2 linked regions of the Homo sapiens genome follow. The protein of the gene in region 2 interacts with the protein of the main gene of each other region in a pairwise test. Each region holds a gene or a part of one and is shown on either strand. Other genes may lie near its edges.

What was found. Proteins that work in one complex are often made in the same cells at the same time.
Region 1: the proteins of RUNDC3A (region 2) and RAP2B interact in binary tests that used the Homo sapiens proteins (3 or more experiments, as listed by UniProt).

Annotation. Positions count from the first base shown.
Region 1 is NC_000003.12:153,165,246-153,168,186, forward strand, and holds part of RAP2B (ras-related protein Rap-2b), read left to right. Parts: 3' UTR 1-2,941. UniProt on the Homo sapiens protein: Small GTP-binding protein which cycles between a GDP-bound inactive and a GTP-bound active form. Involved in EGFR and CHRM3 signaling pathways through stimulation of PLCE1.
Region 2 is NC_000017.11:44,311,470-44,315,226, forward strand, and holds part of RUNDC3A (RUN domain-containing protein 3A), read left to right. Parts: intron 1-1,110; coding exon 1,111-1,226; intron 1,227-1,634; coding exon 1,635-1,783; intron 1,784-1,948; coding exon 1,949-2,034; intron 2,035-3,265; coding exon 3,266-3,355; intron 3,356-3,459; coding exon 3,460-3,540; intron 3,541-3,685; coding exon 3,686-3,757. UniProt on the Homo sapiens protein: May act as an effector of RAP2A in neuronal cells.

The DNA of each region.
Region 1 (2,941 bases), on a different chromosome or scaffold from region 2:
GGTTTTGATTTGGAAATAGATTTAAAAGAAAACAGGCTAAGATAATATCCTTGTTCTCATTTACACCCTGCAGTTTGGACCACATTTGACCTCATAAGTTTTTCCTTTTAACAGTAGGAGGCAGTGTGAGCTTTTTATTTTTTATTTTTCTTAAGGTGGTCTTAGTAATATAACATGTTCATACATATCAAGAGAGTACTTGGTATACCTTAGGTCTATGAAGTGTAGCTGAAATCTGAAGAGTCTTGACAAAGGGATTTACACCCTTGACAAAACCAAAAGAAATTAACAGGCCACAGGTTTCTTTAAAGCTGTGTTAACATATCTTGCCTTAAAATGTGTGTGTGTGTTTTTGCTTTGCTTTTTTTTTTTTGCCCAAGAGGCATCTCAGTACTCCAGCAATGGAGGAAGAATAGAGAATTTTGCCTGGCAATGGTCCTACTGCCATTTTTTTTTTCCCACTCTGATCTCACTTAAGTTTGATATCAAACACAATTGGGAGGCAATAGTATCAATATCCTAAATGTAGAAATTAAAAGATACTGTATAATTTTATGCCTTTGCAAAGATTCGTTCTTGTATTTGAATAAATTCAGTTGCTAAAGTAGATCCAAAGTGTTAAAAATGCTGAAGTCATGTCAAGTACTGTCTGGAGGGTTTTTTTAAGAAAAGGCATTTGGCATTTAACTGTCTCTTGTTTTATTTTTAAGTTTTTGGAAACCTTTTGACATAAAATGCTGCCAAGTATCTAAGAAATGTATATACTGACAGAAGATATTTGAAAGTGGAAAATTGGAAATGAAATATGTTGCTGGGTGCGTTAATCACCTCCGCCCAGGATTTAGTCACTTGCAGGACCTCTTTATAGTCTAGGATGGCAGAGCAGAAGATTTTAATATGCTTTTATTAAGTGATGTAAAATAAATGCTTTTTGGATTATCAATGAAAGCAATTTTATGTGTGCCTGAAGCAAGAAAATAGCGTTTTTGGTTTTATCTCATATTTTCTTGGCAAAATTGAGAGAAATTAGGAACACTGCTATTTTTTTCTTAAAAATGTTTTTAAGAATATGTTCGTTTCTTTGACTATTAAGAACCCCTTGTGGTATTAGTGTGTGAAGAGATAAGGGCATTTGTTTCAATGAAAAAGTTAGTGTTAAAGGAAGTGAGTCAGGGAGGGCGGAGTTTGTTGTAAGGCAATCACCTGTCAAAACAGAAATTGGGTGGGAAAGGAGTCTTTATCTTGGGGAGCAAAAGCTGACTTTTAAACTTGACCCCTGCTGTTTTTAAACAGCTTTTCCTTTTGGTCTCTGACAGTCAATCCAGGTTTTATGTTATTTCAAAAGGGTTATTTTTGTCCTCCTTTTTTAATAGCTTCAGGAAAGTTAAAGGTATCATCTTAGGTCTAACACTCTAGTCTTTGAGAGTTACGGTTCTTTCGTAGAACAATTTCCATGTTGTTAACTGTTGTAGACTTAATTGAATCACATTTTGGGACCAGATGTATTTGGGGATAGAATTCTTTAAATGTATGGGACTTCATGCTTCCTGATTATGTAATATTTCCTGTGGTTGGGAATCCTAGAATGCCTGATCTATTTTATCTGTTCAGGTAGTTTTGTTATTGTACCCTCTTTTGGGTCATATTCTAGTATTTCTCACAGGGGGTATGAGAAACAGAAAGCTATATGTAGCAGCTGGTCTTGAGAAGTAGAAGCATCTTAACTGTCATAAGAGCATAGATTTTTTGTTTTTCACAACAGCTGGAATAAGTTCCTGCATTATAAGTATAAAGGGAACCGAGATTTAATTTGGAGATCATCACTGTTAAAACGATACCAGACATTTGTCACAGTGTCTTATTTGGGGAAAGTTTGCTAATATACATTTTGTCTGTGAAAATATAGTAAATTTTAAAATACTAATATAATGTGGTATTCTTGATTACAGTATTTTATGCAGACTATTAGGAATGATTCAGTGCATTTAACTGAACACAGAGCTAGTTCTAGGTGAGTGAGATCTTTATCTATTAACTGGATTTTGAAGGTTTGAGAAGGCTATGGGGATCATCTGGTTGAAAGGTTCTCAAACTTGACCATATATCAAAATCACCTGGAGCTTAAAACATGTACTGCTGGGACCCTCCTCCAGTTTCTTACCCAGTGGGTCTCGGGTAGGGTCTCAATTTTCATTTCTAACAAGTTTCCAAGTGATTGTGTTATTGCTGTTCCAGGGACCACACTTTGAAAACCAGTGATCTAGACTGAACTCCAAATGAGTACTATACTGACAGCCACCTAGATATTGAGAGACACAGACTTCAGACTCATGTCACACATTTTGGAGTGCTGTCTACTACAGTTAGAGAATAATCTCTATTGAAATCTAAGCTAAAGAGGACATATACCATTTATACTAAGACTAACTGTTGTGTGTGAAATAGAATAAACATTGCAGGTAGTTTTTGATCATTTTCACATTATTACAGGAACATTTTGACTATGGTTTTCAATGTTAATTCAGAAGTTGACTTTAAATGAAAATGTGGTTAGAATAGAGGCAAAGCCTAAGTGATCAGAATCAACATTCCCCTTCTCCCCAACCTAGGGGAAAAAAAATTTGAAAAGTATGTCTTCAATAAAAGGGGACACTTTATTTGTCTTCTCTTCAACATTAAAAAACAAAGATTTTAAGTTTTCATGGCAAGGGTTCTAAAAATCATTGTGCCAGAGAATTTAAATCTTCATATCATGGTAAGCACATGCGTATGTCTGTGACTCAGTTTCTTAGCCAGACTTCCAGGTGTTAGTTAATTCCTTCTCATTTAGTTCTACTGTAATCCATTCTGGGAAAATGCATACCACAAAACTGTGTATCTTGCAGCTTCTTTCGTTATGCATCTTAATTCCCTCAGAAGGTCCCAGAACTTTATGTTAAAG
Region 2 (3,757 bases):
TGAGAGTAATACTAAGAGGACCTACCTTTCAGGGCTGAGCATGGGTAAGGGAATGCATGCAAAGTACTGTGCTTGCCACATTATAGGGCTTGATAAATATAAGAAGAAAAGGACATTTCCAAGCAGCTCCCATTTCCCTGGACACCCCGCCCCTGCTCTGCCACCCACAGCAGGGAAATCATGGGATGTTAGGAACTGTGTCCTCATCCCTGCCCTACTCCATTGCAGGGATGGCAGGGGGAGATTGCAGGGGTAGTGACTGCAGAGGGAGCCTGAGGCTTAGACAGGACTGGAGAGGGGGCACTGCATGGCTTCAGTCCTTCAGCCCCACAGGCTTCCCTTAGTCCCTTCCTCCCAAAGAAGCCAGGCCCCCAAGCCCCTTCCAGGGATCTGCTGCCAATGCCCCCTCCTGCCCAGTGTCTGTGTCAGGCCCATACCCCGCACCTCCCCACCCCACCCCCGCCCAGCTCTGCACTGCCTGGTTCTGGGCAGCTGGTGTGTGGGAGGCCAAGCCGGGAAGGAAAGGGGGGAAGGGGGTATCTGTGTACTGGGAGCCCACCTGGCCACCTGCGCATGCCCACACTCCATGTGCACAGTGCCAACTCACATGCCCTGGTACAGGTGACCCCCATCCCCAAAAGGGACTGAAGGTTGCTCCAGCAATCACAGAAGACAGCTCAGGTGGGGCACACACTGGCTTCTAACACCTAGTTGACCCAGGCCTCGCACACACAGACCCTGAAGGGTGGTCTATGGGGAAGGGGCTCCTGGACCGCCCCCGGCTTGTGCCTCATCTTCCTATTTTTTCAGTCCCTCTCACCCCTTGCTCCCGAAGCTTCCTTTCTCTGGCTGTCACCTCTCCTGTCACCCACTTTGTCAATCAGTCTCCCACCTGTCACCCTTCCTCCCCATCTGCCACCCTCTCACTCCACATGACACGGTACCTCTATGGTCACTGTAGTCTTGCCTGTCTCCCCACTCGCTCTGCCCCCCACCACATCCATGCCCTTCCTGACCTTTCTTCTCTGCCGGTTGCTCCCTGTCTCTCCCTCCATCACCTGTTTCCTCACCTGACACCCCACTGCCCCATCTCCCCACCTCGCCGCCCAGGTTCTCTGTGAAAACGCTGCTGGAGAAGTACACAGCGGAGCCCATCGATGACTCATCGGAGGAGTTTGTCAATTTTGCAGCCATTTTAGAGCAGATCCTCAGCCACCGCTTCAAAGGTGGGCCCAGCGCCCCTCCCCCAGCGGTCCCTCCCCCAGCGCCCCTCCCCCAGTGGTCCCTCCCCCAGCGCCCCTCCCCCAGCGGTCCCTCCCCAACTCCCAACCTTTAGCTCCCAGCCACCTCTTTCTGATATACTCCATGGACTCTGAACCCCCTCATTGACCCTGGCCCCCATTCTGGGCCATGCACAGAAGCTTGTGTACAGATCTGGGAAGAGGGAGAGGCCTTTGGCCTACAATCCCCATCATGGGCAAGCGATATGCTGGGGTGCCCACTGCACACGTGCATGTGTGTGCACAGATCTTTGTGGGAGGAGGCTGCTTATGCTTATGCATGTGAGTGCCTCACTACATGGACCCTCTCCAAACTCCCTGGTCTTGCTGAGCCCCCTCCCTGCCCTGGCTCAGCCTGTGCCCCAGCAGGTCCAGTGAGCTGGTTCAGCTCAGACGGGCAGCGGGGCTTTTGGGACTATATCCGGCTGGCCTGCAGCAAAGTGCCCAACAACTGTGTGAGCAGCATCGAGAACATGGAGAACATCAGCACAGCCCGGGCCAAGGTGAGGGGCCTGAAGCAAGCAACTGCTCTCTGCTCTGGACACAGGGGGCCTGCCTGTTTCTTGGTTTTTGCCCCCTGTGCACAGCCCAGGGGAGAAGGGCCCACACCTGATGCTGGACACATGAGTCCCTCTGGGGCAGCAAGTAAAGGTGAACATGATTTCCAGGGCCGGGCATGGATCCGGGTGGCACTGATGGAGAAGCGCATGTCAGAATACATCACCACGGCTCTGCGTGACACCCGGACCACCAGGTCAGACTTCCCAGGCAACTCAGACCACAGGTCTCAGAGTGCACCTGCATTGCCCAAACACAGCTGATCCTTAAGTTCCTGCAGCATCCTTCAGTTCCTGGACTACAAGTCCCAGCACCAGCACACATGGCTGATTTCCCTCTTCCAGCCTGGCCTGCAGTCCCAGGACGAACTCTTTTTTTTTTTTTTTTTTTTGAGAAGGAGTTTCGCTCTTGTTGCCCAGGCTGGAGTGCGATGGCGCGATCTCGGCTCACTGCAACCTCCGCCTCCTGGGTTCAAGCGATTCTCCTGCCTCAGCCTCCTGAGTAGCTGGGATTACAGGCATACGCCACCATGCCCAGCTAATTTTGTATTTTTAGTTTCTCCATGTTGGTCAGGCTGGTCTCAAACTCCCAACCTCAGGTGATCCTCCCGCCTTGGCCTCCCAAAGTGCTGGGATTACAGGCATGAGCCACCGCTCCTGGCCCCAGGACAAACTTTTACCACCACCACCACCACCACTTGCAAGTCAAATCTAATGCCCATTATTTGCCATCAATGCCCAGCACGCTCCACCCTTGCACACCTCTGGATGAGCCTCAGCCATGCACCATCTCAAGTGTTGGCTTGCTCCATGATCTACAACACAGCCCTTCTGTCTCTCCAAACAACGAAAGCAGTTCTGTACTTGCTATTCACGGACACAGAGTCCTTATATGGGGAGTTCAATCCCTGCACTGTGGGTTCACAGGGAGGTTGGGTGCCTGAGGCAAGGGGTTACAAGGAGGAGTGTGCCTGTGTGGGCAGGTGCATCTGAAGCTGTCTGGGTGTGGCGGGGGGCATATACCTCCCCATCCCAATTGGCCATACCCAGCCTGATGTTTTTACTGAATTCCATTCCTCAGTCTACACGTTTCAAGTTAACACGTTTTTTGCGCACCTACTGTATACCAAGCACTAATGATTAAGACTTGCTTCCTGATATGAAGGATCTGGGTAACCCAGTACTTGATGAGGAAGGGGTAGCTCAGAGGGAGGAGTCGGCTCAGGGAACACCCATTCTAGGTGATGGGGCCACAGGTGCGAGCCCCAGGCTGAAGGGGGAGAGAGGCTCCAGGCCTGCGTGCAGATCAGGAAGGAGAATTGGCCTTCCTTCAGGATGGGGTGGCAGTAAGCCAACAATAGCAGCTCTGGGGGGGGGGGGGGCGCTCCAGGGGCCTGCTGCATCCTCTGGCCCTCTGCCTCCCCACAGACGGTTCTATGACTCTGGAGCCATCATGCTGCGGGATGAAGCCACCATCCTCACCGGAATGCTGATCGGACTGAGCGCCATCGACTTCAGGTGGGGTCTGCCTGACGGCAGTGGTGGAGGGGGCTGTTTCCCCCATAAATGTCCTACCCCAACCCCTCACACCCACCTCCAACCCTGTGGCTCCTCTGCCTCAGCTTCTGTCTAAAGGGGGAAGTCCTGGACGGGAAGACCCCCGTGGTCATCGATTACACGCCCTACCTAAAGTTCACGCAGAGGTGAGCGGCTCCATGACTGCGGCGGGGCGGGGGACGGGGCCTCGGGACATCCTGGGGACGTCCTGGTCCCACCGCCCTCAGCGGCCAGCGCAGACGCGCGGGGGGAGGGGCGGGACCGGCCGTGCCCACTGCTCCCTCTCCCAAGCTACGACTACCTGACGGACGAGGAGGAGCGGCACAGCGCCGAGAGCAGCACGAGCGAGGACAACTCGCCCGA